2 separate regions of the Homo sapiens genome follow, and region 1 is linked to region 2. Evidence: fine-mapped expression QTL. Tissue or cell type: whole blood. Region 2 holds a variant in brackets; the other region holds the start of a gene. All regions are shown on one strand. Distances are from middle to middle.

Evidence for each region. PIP is the estimated chance that this variant, and not a neighbour inherited with it, causes the effect.
Region 1: it holds the start of KIAA0930, and the variant in region 2 is fine-mapped to the expression of KIAA0930 in whole blood (INTERVAL, PIP above 0.99).

What each region holds. Positions count from the first base shown.
Region 1 is chr22:45,236,896-45,245,227 of GRCh38, forward strand. It overlaps KIAA0930, which reads right to left and starts at 3,999. Exons shown (of 10, transcript NM_001009880.2): 1 at 3,745-3,999. The coding sequence starts at 3,808. RefSeq lists silencers at 3,573-3,662, 3,813-3,872, 4,033-4,092, 4,123-4,322.
Region 2 is chr22:45,217,091-45,225,422 of GRCh38, forward strand. All of the region lies in intron 1 of KIAA0930, which reads right to left. Among named protein-coding and RNA genes, the nearest start is that of KIAA0930, 20 kb to the right of the region's middle. RefSeq lists enhancers at 6,132-6,633, 6,634-7,133, 7,335-8,329, 8,330-8,332. The variant G/C (reference allele first, on the strand shown) is at 3,478.

The DNA of each region.
Region 1 (8,332 bases), 20 kb after region 2:
CAAGAATGCTCAGCTGAGGCAGGGCACAGAGACAAGCAGCCGGATGTGGGTCCCACCTGCTCACGGCACCTCTCAGGACTCACACCAGGTCTTGGGCCCAGGTCGCGTCCACGTTACCTGACCAACTGTCGGGTGGGCTGCCCCTGTTGAAAGGGAGCCTGTGTGCTTGGGCTGAGGCCCAGGGCCCAGGAGAAGGCCCAAGCCCCGGGAAGAAGTGGCAGGGTTTGTCCCCCTTCAGTCCAAATGTCTGCATCGCACACCTGGGTCCTGAATCACCTGGTTCATCTGTGACCTGGAGTCATGAGCAGTGTCCTGTGGATGCAACACCAAAATCTTGCTCCGGGCAGCCGCAGCCCCACTGCTTCCAGCAGGGTTTGTACTTCAGCTAACAGTGACCTGTGCTCCTGGCTGTCTCCCCCATGGACTGTGCCCTCCCACAAGGCAGGGATCAGGGCCCAACACTCCCGCCCCCTCTCAGTACAGAGCAAGTGCTCAACTCCCCTTCTACTGCAGAGGCTGCCACAGACAAGCCTCAAAAGCCAGATGTGAAATCTACAAGGTGCCTTTCATCACGAGAGCTGAGCGATGACCCCTGAGTGAGGAGGGCCAGGAGCTTAGTCCCATCTCAGAGACAGACACTGACTCAGAGAATGACAACCACTCAACCAAAGCCCAGCGCCTCCACCTGAGGCTCCCTTGACACCTTCAAAACAACGTCAGAGGACACAGCAGGTTTCTGAGTAACCCAAGCTTTTGCTAAACAACAACAAAAATCTGGGAGATTTAAATTCATTCATAAATCTAACAGGCTGTCACAGAGGTGAAGTGGAGATGATCAAACACAACCCTGCCCCCACAGCTTGAGAGTGTTGATGATTCAGTGGACGCAGAAGTGCTCCGGGGCTGGTGTTCTGGCTCCTCTCAGGACTCACACCTGAGAGGTGAGAGGTGCGCTCCACTCTGGGCATCAAGTTCCTAGTAAGCTCACCCCTCGCTGAACATCAAATCTCTCATCTGAAAAATGAGCCCTTTTTTTTTTTTTTGAGACAGAGTCTCACTCTGTAGCCCAGGCTGGAGTGCAGTGGCGTGATCTCGGCTCACTGCAACCTCCGCCTCCCGGGTTCACACCATTCTCTTGTCTCAGCCTCCTGAGTAGCTGCGACTATAGGCGCCCGCCACCACGCCTGGCTAATTTTTTTTTTTGTATTTTTAGTAGAGACGGGGGTTTCCTCATGTTAGCCAGGCTGGTCTCAAACTCCTGACCTCATGATCCGCCCGCCTCAGCCTCCCAAAGGGTTGGGATTACAGGCATGAGCCACCACGCCCGGCCAAAAATGAGGCCTTCTAAGAAGCTAAGATTCCCATCTCCGTGGCCCTCCACGCCCTTCATCTGCCAGTCCAGATAATAATTTTCTCACTTGTTCACTAAATGTTTACTGGGCACCTGCTCCGTATGTGCCCCATGCTGGGCACCAAGATGAATCAGACTGGGTAATGCCTTTGAAGGCCTCACCTGCTAACTGGGGAGACAGCACACAGACCATGACAAGGCCACAATCATCCTGATTGTCCCAACAAACATGTGCCTGGCACAAAGAGAACACAGGCAGAACAGGACTGTGTGCCTGGGAGCTGGAAAGAGTTCCCGGAGAGGCAACACTGGAGCTGAGACTTAAAGGAAAACTTAGAGATGCTTGTGGGGCACATGAGTAGGGGCGGCTTTCCGGGCAGAGAAAACAGCAGGTTTTCTCTGCTTCAGAGCCCTGCAGGGACTGAGTTCAGCAGCAGGGGAAGAGGGGAGACCTGGCACGTGCGGGAGGCCTGGAGAAGAGACAAGGAAACAGCGTGAGTATCGTAGGCACATAAAGACCTGGCTGGGGATATTCAGGGAGTGGAGGGCAGGCTCTGAGGTCAGGCTGGCAGAGGGTCAGTCCCGGCTATGCTGCTATGCTGCTTCCTCATTGGTTGTCCCTGGGCAGGCTCTCTCTCTCTCTCTCTCTCTCTCTCACCCTCAGGCTCTTCATCGCTGATATGGAGATAATACTGCTCCCTGGCAAAGTCAGCATTGTGTCAGGATTAAATTTGCAGCATGAGTAAAGCACCCGGCACATAGTAAGTGCTCAGTAAATGCTAGGTGCCATTTTCACTGTTCACTGTTCTTCTGGGAATGGCCCTGCAGCCTCCTTGCGGGAGGGGCTGCCTAGAAGAGGAGAGAAGGTGCTCACAGGTAAAGGTGGTCAGAGGACAATAGGTGTGTGTGGACAGGGGAGTGGGGAGGGACTGCTTGAAGCTGCTGAGCAAACAGGGCCAAGTGACCTGCAGCAGATGGTCCTTCAGATGCATCCCAGCTCAGATATTCGGTGCCAGCTGACAGGTGGGCCTGCCACGGTGGCACACAGTAGGTGCTCAATGAATGTTTGCAGAATGAATGAATAAGCACGCTCCAACTTCTGCTCAAAAGTAAATCTTGACACCTTTTCAGAAAGAAACCATTGAAACCTTGTCAACCATTGAAGTTCTTGTCCATTTCACTTCATAAGCACCCCCCACCCCACCCCTGCATGAGGAAAGGCTCGCCTGGGCAGGCTAGGCTGGGGCCTGCTCACTGGGAAGCCTCCCATGCTAAGCCTGCCTCCTACAAAAGGGATTCAAATTTACTTCCTCTCTCCACTCCAGCCTCCAGGGTGTGGCCTGCTGAGGGGCCCTGAATGCCTGGGACTGCCATGTCCCTGCAGCTGTGTGACCTTAGGGGGATGCACTTGTTCTCTGGGACTCAGTTTCCCCAACGGTGAATGAAGGGGTGAATCTGGAAGGCTGACATTCCGTACTCAGCAATGCTGTCACCCCCTCAGAAATCCCCAGCCTAGCCTGGGGGTGGGGTGGGGGGTGGCTGACAATGTGGTATGAAGTCATTCCCTGCACGGAGGAGGGAGGGGTCTTTTCCATGGAGAAAATGACGAACCTGAGACGACAAAAGAGGGGGCTTCTCCTGGGCTTCAGTCTGGGCATGATCCATCAGTAATGGATTACCTCACTGGCTGGGAGACCCCACCCACACCTGCAGTCCCAGGCCCTTCCAAACAATACGAGGCACCCCCATCCCACGCCCCCCAGCAGATCCATGACTTAAAGCCCAGAATCACACCGAGAGGCAGCAGGCCCTGCCCCTCAGCCAAGCGGGCGGGTTCGGGGGGCCATTGCCCAACAGGTCCCTGGATACAGCTAAGGGATGAGAGGGGCCGGTGGGTGCGGAAAGACAAAGGCTTCGGGTAGCAGGAGACAGTGGCCAGGGCACGCTCGCAGCGAGGTCCACCCAGAGCCCAACGAGGGCCCGACCCTGCCGCGCTGGGCTAAGGGTGTACCCAGATCCCACGCCCACACTCCCTACCGCGGTGCTGAGGGCCCGGGGCGGGCTTCCTGGAGAAGGAAGAAGACCCGCAGAGACACGAAGAAGAAGGAGGAAGATGAGACAGACACCCGGACGGACTGACAGGGGGAGACGCCGAATGAGACCCGGGCACAGGGGTGCGGGGCGCTCGTCGGACGGAAAGCAGAGACAGACCCAGATGCAGGGACGGTGGGGGGGGGGCCATGGAGGAAGACAGGGTACCCAGGCAGACCCAGAGACCACGACACCCGCGCAGAGACAGAGATGCGCGGGGCGCACAGAAACACGGACGCGCAGAGGCGGCCCCGGAGACGCTCACCTCTCCCGGCCCGGCCTCGCCCCCGGGTCCCACTCACCGAGGCCGCAGACCTCGCGGCGCAGGCTAAGACGGCCGCGCTCCTCCGCTATGGCACGCAGCATGTGCTGCAGCGAGCGCTCCTCGGCCTCGGCGCCGCCCGCAGGCTCGGGGGCGGCGGCGGCGGGGAGGGCGGGCGGCCCGGCCCGCAGCCCGCCGCGAGCACCAAGGAAGCCACAGTCCGCCTCTGTGCGCGTCGCCGTCGCCGCCGCCGCCGCCACCACCCGCCAAACACAGCACCGGCGAGCGCACCTCCGCGCCGCCGCCGCCCGCGCGCCCCCGGCTCCGCTCGCCCCGCCCCGGCCCGGCCCGGCCCCGGTCCGGCCCCGCCCCTTCCCCGCCCCGGCCCCGCCCCTGTCCCCTCCCGCCCCGCCTCTGAACGGCCCGGACCCACCCCGGCTCCCTGGCCCCGCCCCCTGACCTCCCTTGCCCCGCCCACTTCCAAACGGCCAGTCTCCGCCAATCTTCGGATGCCCAGGACAGCCTCCCTCAAACCGCTCGCGGGGTCCCGCCTCCACCCAAGGTCCTAAACGCCCCACCAACGGGATCACGCCTCTGAGCCCCTCCCGCCGCCCCTTCAGGGCACCTCTCCCCTCCCCCGCTGCTACCCCACGGGATGTGTACTTTGTCACCCGCCCTGTGCGTTGCCACCTCCACCAAGTCCCCTCGGCTGACTTCTGGGAACTTCCTCCGCAGAACCCCTCAAGAGGTCACCTGCTCCCAGAAGGTGGTCTCCTGGGGGACACCGTGGCAAAGCCCTTCCGGCCCCCCTCCTCTGCACCTGGCACAGTGCAGAGTGTTGCGCCTCCATTTCCTCAGCTGCACCATGGGGGACCTTTCCCTGCCTTGCCTCCCCAACATGGGGGAGTGTTGATGAAGGGGGAGGTATGAGGTTAGCTGGGCGTGTCATCCTGATGAAGCCAGGTCTGGCCAGCATCCCTCCGTGTGCTAGTTGTGGCTGATACAGGAAGACACCGGAGAAGCAGCCAGTGGCCTCCCCAAACCTCACGCCTGGTGGTCCATTTCCAAGAACAGGGGGAGATGGAGAGACCAGCATTGATTTCCAGGTCTCTCCAAAGCTAAATCTACATCACTCCCTGCATTCACAGCCTGTGTGTGGACCCCAGACCCATCAAGGTCCCCCTTTCCCCTGTCTGGAGTCCTCTTCTCCCCATTCCTGTGTAACTTGCTTCCTTTGTGTCCCGAGTGTCACATCCTCAAAGAAACTCCCCTGACCGCCTTCCCTCCCTCTCTCTTCCCTTAGTCTGTTTCTCCTTCACAGGGTGACACTTACCTCCTCCCGACACATTGGATACCTATGGGTTCACTTGTTCTCTTCTCTACCGAGGGAGGGGCCTGTCTACTACACAGCTGTTGTCTCAGTACCCAGAACATTGCCTGGCACACATTAGATGCCCAATAAATAGATATGGGCTGCAGGCTGGGCACAGTGGCTCATGCCTGTAATCCCAACACTTTGGGAGGCCGAGGTAGGTGGATTGCCTGAGGTTAGGAGTTCCAGAACAGCCTGGCTAAAATGGTGAAACCCCATCTCTACTAAAAATACAAAAATTAGCCGGGCATGGTAGCACACATTTGTAATCCCAGCTACTCTGGAGGCTGAGGCAGGAGAATTGCTTGAACCTGGGAGGCGGAGGCTGCAGTGAGCCGAGATCCCGCCACTGCACTCCAAGCTGGGAGACAGAGCAAGACCCTGTCCCCCCCCAAAAAAAAAGAAAAGAAAAGAAAAAAAAATGTAGGCTGCATAAACGAAGAATGATGGAGAGGTCTGATGGGGACGCAGGGGTCTTCCTGGGAGGCACAGCAGGAAGGAGCCGTGGGGTTGGGCAGAGCCCCAGAAGGGAGATGGGATCTGGATCCTGCTTCAGGCCTCTGCCCCAGTTTTGTGCCACTGGCCCCTGAACTCTTCAGAGCAGAGCCACATCTGACCCCTCTGTGTCCCCAGTGCCAGGCCCAGGAGGGCTCTGTAGAAAGGTGAGCAGTGAGGGAATGAAGGAAGTGCGCGACCAGCCTCACGTGTATTTCTCTTCTCCAGTGGGCCTGCATCCCTGTCTGTAAAGTGAGGACACTGGCATGAGGGCTGAGGCCTCTGGTTCTGCGTCTGGAGAGCTGGGGTTTGGGCTGGTGGACGTGAGAACTGGGGATGGTGGATCAGACAGCATGAGCGAGTGCTCCAAGGCTGTCAAGTCCAATAGTCACATCCCTCTTTGCCTCCCCAAACCCCACAGCACCCCCTGCCTGTTCCCACTGCCATGCGTTTGCCCACAGTGTTCCCTTGGCCTGAAATCCTTTCTGCTCCGCAACTGTAGTTGCCTTTGGGACCCACATTGCCTGGTTACGCTTGGCCAATGCATTGTGTTCTTATTTGCTTCACAAACCCCCTTTCCCCACCCCACCCTCCTGCACACAGTTGCCTCCGTGTATTCTGTGTCATATGACCAGCATTGAACCAATTCATCCCACTTCCCGTGGCACCCAGCCCAGGACTGGTGCCAGAAAAATATCTGTTGAATGAATGAGTAAACAAACATCGCTTGGGCTCTCTCCTTTGTATTTCAATAATACTCCAGGTATTACCTATACACAGAATTTTCTTTCTTTCTTTTTTTTTTTTTTTTTTTTTGAGGCGGAGTTTTGCTCTTGTTGCCCAGGCTGGAGTACAATGTCGCGATCTCGCCTCACCGCAACCTCCACCTCCCAGGTTCAAGCAATTCTCTTGCCTCAGCCTCCCAAGTAGCTGGGATTACAGGCATGTGCCACCACGCCCGGCTAATTTCATGGAGATGGGGTTTCTCCATGTTGGTCAGGCTGGTCTCGAACTCCTGACCTCACATATACACAGAATTTTCTAATGTCAACAAATGCTAAATCACACTGTGCATGGGAAGAGGGCAGGAGCAGGACTTCTGGGGCTACAGAGCATGTTCTGTTTCTTGATCTGGGGGCTGGTTACACGGGTGTGGTCAGTTTATGAAAATTAAAAGGCTGCACAGCTGGGCATGGTGGCTCACGCCTGTAATCCCAGCACTTTGGGGGGCCAAGGCGGGCAGATCACCTGAGGTCGGGAGTTCGAGACCAGCCTGGCCAACCTGGCGAAACCCCATCTCTACTAAAAATACAAAAATTAGCTGGGCGTAATGGCACACACCTGTAGTCCCAGCTATTCTGGAGGCTGACGCAGGAGAATCGCTCGAACCTGGGAGGCAGAGGTTGCAGTGAGCCGAGATTGTGCCACTACACTCCAACCTGGGCAACAGAGCGAGACTCCATCTCAAAAAAAAAAAAAAGTTAGAAAATCAAAAGGCTGTGTGCTGTGGTTCAAACCTGTAACCACAGCACTTTGGGAGGCCAAGGCAGGCAGGAGGCTGGCTTAGGCCCAGGAGTTTGAGACCAGCCTGGCCAACATAGCAAGACCTCATCTTTACAAAAAAAAAAAAATTAGCCAGGTGTGATGACACACGTCTGTGGTCACAGCTACTCAGGAGGCTGAGGTGGGAGGATTGCTTGAGGCGGGGAAGTCAAGGCTGCAGTGAGCCGCGATCACACTGCTGCACTCCAGCCTAGGCAACAGAGTGAGACCTGGTCTCAAAAAAAAAATATATATATATGTATATATAACATATATATATGTAATATATATAATATATATGTTATATATGTAATATATGTATGTAATATATATATAAAGCTGGCATTTTGTAATTATTTATGCACTTTTCTGTATACAAATATTCAGAATATAAAATAGAATTGAAAGTATATAGGCAGAATAATGGCCCCAAAATGCCCACACCCTAATTCCTGTGCTAATTCCTGTGAATATGTTGCCTTACCTGGCAAAATGGACTTTGCTGACGTGATTTTTTGTTTGTTTGTTTTCGAGACAGGGTCTCACTCAGTTGCCCAGGCTGGAGTGCAGTGGCACGATCTTAGCTCACTGCAACCTCCACCTCCCCAGCTCAATCCATCCTCCCACCTCAACCTCCTGAGTAGCTGGGACTAAGGGTGTGTGCCACCACACCCGGCTATTTTTTGTATTTTTTGGTAGAGACAGGGTTTCACCATGTTGGCCAGGCTGGTCTCGAACTCCCGACCTCAAGTGATCTGCCCACCTCGGGCTCCCAAAGTGCCGGGATTACAGGCATGAGCTGCCACATGGGGCCTAAGAGTACAGACACTGAGATAGGGAGACTATCCTGGGTTATCCAAGTGGGCCCAATCTCATCACATAAATTCTTAAAATCGGGGAACATTTCCTGGCTGTGGTCAAAAAGAGATGTGACAACACAAGAATGGTCAGGTAAATGCAATGTTGCTGGCACTGAAGAGGGAGGAAGGGGCCACAAGACAAGGCATACAGGCAGCTTCCGGAAGCTGGAAGAGGCAAGGAAACAGATTCTCCTACAGTTGCCCCCAGATATGACACAGCCCTGCCTGCACCTTGACTTTAGCTCAGCAAGACCTCAGTTGAACTTCTAACCTACAGAACTGGAAATGTGTTAAGGCAATAACGTTGTAGTAATTATTACAGCAGTGATACCAATACGTGGGCAAGCCTGAGATGTGGG
Region 2 (8,332 bases):
CGGTTCATGCCTGTAATCCCAGCACCTTGGAACGCTAAGGCAGGTAGAATACTTGAGGTCAGGAGTTCAAGACCAGCCTAGCCAACATCGCAAAACCCCATCTCTACTAAAAATACAAAAATTAGCCGGGCATGGTGGCGGGCGCCTGTAATCCCAGCTATTTGGGAGGCTAAGGCAGAAGAATCGCTTGAACCCGGGAGGCGGAAGTTGCAGTGAGCTAAAATCACGCCACTGCACTCTAGCCTGGGAGACAGAGCAAGACCCCGTCTCAAAAAAAAAAAAAAAAAAAAAAAAAAAAGACACCATATTTAACATATAGTTCATTCACTAACACTGAACTCATGGCCAACAACAATCAATGTTGAACGAAGCTTCTCTAACACATGTATTTTCTCCATAAAGTACATCACAGCCATCTTGTGCCTGGGACTAGATAGCATCTCAGCCCAGGGCCATTTTAAAGCACTGACAAAAAGCACAAAAAATGCAAAATACATGGCACTAACTAGACTGCAAAAAGGACACTTCTTTACAGTGTGAGACGGAGCATCGCCTTGTCTGACCTCAGCTGGAAACCTGTGTCAGGTAAGGAATTTTTCGACACTGCATGAATGTCAGTCATTAACCCGAAAGTGCCATGAGTACTGATTTTAGGGTTACAAATAAATTTCAGTGAGTAGGTGAATCCGTGAATAATGACAATGGCCTGGACCAGGAAAACTGATATTTGCCAGGAGTTCTGGTGATCCAGCTGTCTCCCCTGCCTCAAGCGAGTGACCTGCTTCTGTAAGTCACTCTCTTCGAACTCCAGAACTGGAAGAGCCCTTTCCAGGTGAGTGACTCCAGGGACTAGCAGGGGAGAGGGCGCGTGGGAAGTGAGCACTAAGCCTGGGCCGTCCACACCCCAGTGCGGTGTCTGCCACCTCTGAATTGCCACTAACTCTCCTCCTGGTTCTGCACGACGCTGGACTGGTGGCATGACAGCACCAAGAGCTCAACAGTGCTGGTTTCAGGAGCGAGGAACGTGATGACAGCTCGCGCGTGCCCTGCACCCTACAGTGTGTTTATTTATTCATTTATTTTTGAGACAGAGTTTTGTTCTTGTCGCTCAGGCTGGAGTGCAATGGCACGATCTCGGCTCACTGCAACCTCAGCCTCCCAGGTTCAGGTGATTCTCCCATCTCAGCCTCCCAAGTAGGTGTGATTACAGGCATGCACCATCACACCCAGCTAATTTTTTTGATTTTTTTTTTTTTTTTTTTTTTTTTTTTTTAGTAGAGACAGGGTTTCACCATGTTGGCCAGGCTGGTCTCAAACTCCTGACCTCAGGTGATCCACCTGCCTCAGCCTCCCAAAGTGCTGGGATTACAGGTGTGAGCCACTACGCTCGGCCACCCTACAGTTTATAAAGCCCTTTCACCCATTGTCTTTTCAGATCCTCATGGCAACTTTATGAGGTGGGGACCACCTCAGCTTAGTTTCAAACCTCAGTCTTCATTTTCAACCAAAACTTGAGACTCTAGTGGCTAGATGGTGTGTGCAGGAGCTGAGACACAAACCCAGCCCCTCCAACAGAGCCCATATCCTTCTCCTGGATAAGCCCACATCCTTATCCTTAGCCTGGCCCTGCAGGAGGATTCTCCCAGCTATGTTACAAATGCAGAAACTAAGCGAACCCGGGGGTCACCTGGTGAACAGCTAGGAAAGCAATTCAGGCTTTCAGACCTCTCCCCTCCCCCAACTTCTGAGTCCCCAGCGGGGTGGGCTCACAGGGGCCACTCTGAGCCCTGAAGCACCATCAGGGCTTCCTGGGATAGTCTAAGAACCCGTGAAAGAACTTCAGACAAGAGCTTCATGCACAGGGGCTGTGGGATCCACTTTCCAGCCGAGTGCCAATTTAACATAATTTAATTATTTTCCATGGGGATGGTTCTTCAGATGCACACTGAAAAGGGAAACTTTTATCTTTCGAGGCATTTCACGTGAATCCAATCACAATATGGGATGGGGGAAGACTGTCAGATTGGAGTTCAAGAGCAGACTTGATTCCCATTTGTGATGCACTGCCCACGTGGGTAAGTGACTGAACCTCTCAGACCTTCAGTTTCCTCATCAGTAAAATCAGAACAGCTGCCTCCTACGGTTACCATGGAGACCAAATGAGCTCCTACACAGTGCTCAGCAGTGCAACACGCACTTAGAAACGATGAATGACAACTGCCACTGTGGTTACTATGATAACTTGGAACATTTTCCACTAACCAGACCCTGGGAATAATCGCGAATTACTTTAGGAGGCATTCCTTGAAACCCACCCCAATCCTTTTTTAGAAAAGGATTAAACCATTAAACCACACAAGCAAGTTATGGTAAAGCCCTGATTAAAATAGTTTATAGCCATTAAAAATGATGGTTCTGTATTAAATAAAGAAAAATGTCCAAGAACTATCTCCCAAAAAAGTACATTAACACAGCAGGCCAAGAGGTGATTGTTTTTTTTTTTTTTTTTTTTTTTTTTTTTAAGATGGAGTCTCAGTGTCACCCAGGCTGGAATAACATCATGTGATCTCGGCTCACTGCAACCTCCATTTCCTGGGCTCAAGCCATCCTCCTGTTTCAGCCTCCTGAGTAGCTGGAACCACAGACATGCACCACCAGACCCAGCTAATTTTTGTATTTTTGGTAGAGACAGGTTTCACCATGTTGCCCAGGCTGGTCTTGAGTGCCTGAGCTCAAGCAATCCGCCTGCTTGGCCTCCCAAAGTGCTGGGATTACAGGTGTGAACCACTGCGCCCAGCCCAAGAAGTGATTTTGGGAAGGCAATCCTATCAGATTTTCAGGAAACAGACAGCTAGCTTCAGGGCTACTCACACAACTTCAGAGCCTAAGAAACATGCCAATTCTTTTTCACAAGGAGGCACAGTATTGATTTCGAAGACCACACACACAGAAAATTACAGGCTAATCTCACAGATGTCAAGACAAAAATCTTAAAAATAGTATTTAAAAGAATCCAGCAACTTATTAAAAATATATGCCATTGGCCAAGCAGAATTTAACTGGGAATAAAGAATGGTCTAGGCCAAGCTCAGAGGCTCACGTCTGTAATCCTAGCACTTTGGGAGGCCGAGGCAGGAGGATTACCTGAGGTCAGGAGTTCAAGACCAGCCTGGCAAACATGGTAAAACCCCGTCTCTACTAAAAATACAAAAAAATTAGCCGGGTGCGGTGGCAGGTGCCTATAATTCCAGCTACTCAGGAGGTTAAAGCAGGAGAATTGCTTGAATCCAGGAGGCGGAGGTTGCAGTGATCGAGATCGGGCCACTCCAGCCTGGCGACAGAGACTCAGTCTCCAAAAAAAAAAGGTTCAATATTAGAAAATCTATTAATATATTCATATCTATTTAGAGCTCAAAAGAGAAATAACACAGGATTATCTCCACAGATGCTGAAGGAGCATTCAATCAAATTCAACAC[G/C]CATTCTTGATTTTTATTTATTATTTTATGTTGGGACAGGGTCTATCTATGTCACCCAGGCTGGAGCACAGTGCTATGATCACGACACACTGCAGCCTCGACCTCCAGCCTCAAGCGATCCTCCCACCTTACTTTCCCAAGTAGCTGGGACTACAGGCATGCAATACCATGCCCAGCTGTGTTTTGTATTCTTTGTAGAGGCAGGGTTTCGCCATGTTGCCCAGGCTGGTCTTGAACTCCTGGGCTCAAGCGATCCTCCCACCTAGGCCTTCCTAAGTGCTGGGATTACACGTGTGAGCCACTGTGCCCGGCCCCCCCAACCCCACCCACTTCTCACAAAACACTGCTTCCACCTTGTGCTAAGCGTCCCCATCCTGGCCTGTATCACCATCACTGCCTGCTCACTGGTCTCTGCGTTTCCACCCTGCCCACTGTTAGAACACACATCAGTTCTGGTCACTTTTCAGCTCAAATTCCTCCACCAAGCTTATTTCCTGACCTGCCCCCAGGCTCTTTACTGAACTATCACCTTCTCAGACAGGCCTTCTCAAACCACCTGATTTAAAATTGCAAATCCCACCCTCAATATGCCCTATCCCACTTCCAGCTTGATTTTTCTCCACAGCACTTGTCACTATCGAATATATATTTTGCCTATTCTGTTTACTTTCAGTCTTTCCCTAGCAAAGGAGTCAGCAAATTCCATGAAAGTCCAGAGAGAAAATATCTTCAGCTTTGCAGACCATAGCTGCAAATGGCATGGCAGTACGTAAAGAAATGGCATGCCATGGCGATATGTAAGGAAATGGACATGGCTATGTTCCAATAAAAGTTTCTTTACAAAAACAGGAAACAGTCCGGATTTAGGGTTATAGTTTGCCAACACCTGCCCTACCAAAGCTGATGTATGTTTTCACGCAGATGCCCTACCAGAACTTAAGCTCCATGAACACATCATTAGCTTTGCTCTATGATCATTTTGTTCAATGCTATACATTTAGTTTCCAGAATGGCATATATGACATAATAAATATGTGCTAATTGAATAAATGAATTAAATGATTAATGAAAGCAAGGTGGTATCAGTACATGACTGGACAGATCAATGGAACAGAATAGAAAGCAAAAACACAAAACTCAAACACACAATAACTGGGTTTTTGTTGTTGTTGTTGTTGTTTTTTGAGACAGAGTCTCACTCTTGTTGCCCAGGCTGGAGTACGGTGGCACGATCTTGGCTCACAACAATCTTTGCCTCCCAGGTTCAAGCGATTCTCCTGCCTCAGCCTCCTGAGTAGCTGGGACTACAGGCATGCGCAACCACGCCAGGCTAATTTTTCTATTTTAGTAGAGACGGGGTATCACCATGGTGACCAGACTGGTCTCAAACTCCTGACCTCAGGTTATCTGCCCGCCTTGGCCTCCCAAAGTGCTGGGATTACAGGCATGAGCCACTGCGCCTGGCCAAGAGTTTTTATGAAGACAGCACTTGAAATCAATAGGATGTAGATTATTCTTCCACAATTGGTCTTGGTACAAGTGGCTTGCTGAGGAAAAAGAATAAGGTTGGGTCCCTGCTCAAGCCAAAATAAATTCCAAAAAGATTAAAACTTTTAATGTTAAAAGTAAAACTATAAAAAAGAAAAACCATGAGAGGATTTTTTATTCCCTCAGAGAGGGAGAAGCCTTTCTAAGGAGAACATAAAAGCTATTAAGGAGAAGAATGATCAATCAAACTATATAAACACTTAAAATTTCTCTTATTTGAGACAGGGTCCCACTCTGTCACCTAGGCTGGAGTCCAGTAGCACAATCACTGCAACTTTGACCTCAACAGGCTCAAGTGATCCTCCCACCTCAGCCTCCTAAGTGGCTGGGACTATAGGCGCACGCCACCACACCTGGCTACTTTTTGTATTTTTTGTAGAGATGAGGTCTCACTATGTTGCCCAGCTGGTCTCAAACTCCTGAGCTCAAGCAATCCGCTTGCCTTGGCCTCCCAAAGTGCTGGGATTACAAGCATGAGCCACTGGGCCTGGCCAAAAATTAAAAATTTCTATAGGGGAAAAAAAACCACCCCCGCCCCCCCACCACCACACACATACACCATAAACAAAGCAAAAAACAAATACCACACTGGAAACACAGACGGAACCCTTACATGAGGGCAATTTCCTTAACAAATACTAAGTTGTACACAATGCATAAGAAAATAAAATGGCACGGAAAGCAGAAGGAAATATAAGTGGTTTTAGAACACAAAAACATGCTCAGCTTGACACAATTAGAGAAATGTAAATTAAAGCCTCAAAATTCTATTTTCCATCTATCAGGTTTGCAAAGATCAAAATACCTGACAACACTTCAGGTCAAAGAGGATGTGGAGAAACAGGGACTTTATATCCTGCAGTAGGAACGTAAACTGCCAAAAATATCAGACAGTCAAAATCACAAACGCATTTTACCTCTGACCCAGCGATCCCACAGATGAATTTTTCCCTGTGGTCTCACTACCTACCACCTACATAAGATTCTTTAAGCATTACAGCACTGTTGGCAAAATAGTGGAGTGGTCCTATCAATAGGGATAGTAATTAAATAAACTAACTTATAAGACATTCACAGAACAGAACACTACGCAGCAATTAAAAAAGATTGAAGCAACTCTATCTGTTCCAAGGAAGAAAGTTCTCTAGAATAAATGAAGCAAAAAATGGAGAGCAGACCAATATTAGAGGTTTTTCCTATTAAAGCCAATCGTTTAAGATGACTCCAATGCTTGCTGGAGCCTGCGGAAGAGAAGGGAGGTGAGGAAGCCAGATGGTCAGGGTCCATCCTGGCTCTGGCAGTTCTGGTCATGTGACAGACAAATCCAAACCTCCTGGTGCCTGTTTCCTGACTTGTAAAATGGCAGTAACAATGGTATCTACCTCCTGGGTTGTTGAAAGTTAGTCCATCCACGTGAAGCCTTTAAAATTGTGCTGGCACCGAGCCAGCACCTAGGATCAGCACCAGATAAGCACCCAGGGTCAGCACTGAGCCAGCAACTAGGATCAGCACCAGATAAGCACCCAAGGTCAGCACTAAGCCAGCACCCAGGGTCAGCATTAAGCCAGCACCCAGGGTCAGCACTAAGCTAGCACCCAGGAACAGCACCAGATGAGCACCCAGGGTCAGCACTGAGACAGCACCCAGGATCAGCACCAGATAAGCACCCAGGGTCAGCACTGAGACAGCACCCAGGATCAGCACCAGATGAGCACCCAGGATCAGCACCAGATGAGCACCCAGGATCAGCACCAGATAAGCACCCAGGGTCAGCACTGAGACAGCACCCAGGATCAGCACCAGATGAGCACCCAGGGTAACCACTGAGCCAGCACCCAGGGTGGGAAAGTATTATTACATCATTACTAGTATCCTCATGGCCTCTGGGGAGAAAAACTATGAAGGAGAAAGACTCAGTGTTTTCATTAAGAACCTTCTCAAACCTTTTGTATTTTGTACCCTGAGCACGTTTACCTATCCAAAAAGTAACCAAAATATTTCTAACAATGCAGTTACTTGGAAAAACGCTCATGGTAGAGGAAAAAAGCCAGGACACAAAATTATACCTGAATACTTAAATGAAGGAAACTGTCTATTTTAAAAAATGCCTAGGAGGAAAGACTGAAGGAATTACACGCACATGCCCACAGTGAAGGGTTAAGAGTGGTGCAGTGCACAGATCCTCATCCCGCAAATAAAACAAAGACAAAAAAAAGTGAGGCCAGAATAACTTCGTCCTGTTTTACAAATACTCTGCGGCATGTTTACAAATACACCCAGGGCTGCCTGTGTGCCAGGCGTGGTGCTCAACACTGAGGCCTGACGCTCTTGATCTCACAACAACTGAAGCAGTTTATTTTACAAACGAGGACATGGCAGGAGGGAGACTGCCCGGCTCCCGCGGTTGGAAGCTGGTGTTTGAACCCACTCGTCCTCACATCAGTTAGTTTGGTCTCATGCGGTCCCTGCTGCCCCCGCCATCCCCAGCTTCAGTGGAAGCAGGATGAATTTTAAGTAACACAGACAGAAGTGAGATGGTAGCTGTGGCAGGCACCAGTAGAAGGTGGTGGCTGGACAGGGAATGCCAGTCAGCTGGAGACTCAAGGAAAACTAGGAATCAAGCAGGCAAAGGTGGACGGCATTCAACGCTCCCCTTGGGGGAAGATGAGTGAGGCCAGGATGGTGGATCAGCCCTGAGGCTGAGGAAGTAGAGTGGGAAGAAGAGCTGGAGGGGCCGGGCCCTCTTCCCTGGGTCAGGGGTTCTGTGTTATCCCCAGAGGGCTGGGGACCCCTGAAGTGTTTGGTGGGGAGGGGGCTGAGAAGGCGTCTGCCGTGGGGTGGCCTGCAGATGCTGGGTGCCTGTCCCGGGACTGTCTGGGTCAAGGGCCTTGAGAGGGTCCTCTCCAGAGAACACCGGGCTCAGCAATAGACTCCACTTGGCCCTGGTCATGGTCCAAAGGTGGGGGTCAACTGGACTCTTTGGGGAGAGTCCAGGCGGCCCTTGGCCCTCTGTAAGCCTCCGCACCCAGGCAGCCAGGGCTGGCTGAATGGGCTTCTGTGGCCCCTCAATAGGCCTTTCATCCACTCGTGCCTCGCAGAGCCTCTCCCAGAGCCTCTCCAGCTGAGGGCCTCCCTCCCTCGGGGCACAGAAAACAAAGGCACTGTCCAGGGAGGCCCCTGGCTGCTCTGACGAGGCACTTGGGGGAGGGGAGCTGGACCATTGAGTCCCCACGTGAGCAGTGCCATGCCCTCTCCTCTGACCAAAGGGAAGCGTGGGGTCTCCACGTTGCGTGCCTAAAACCCCTGC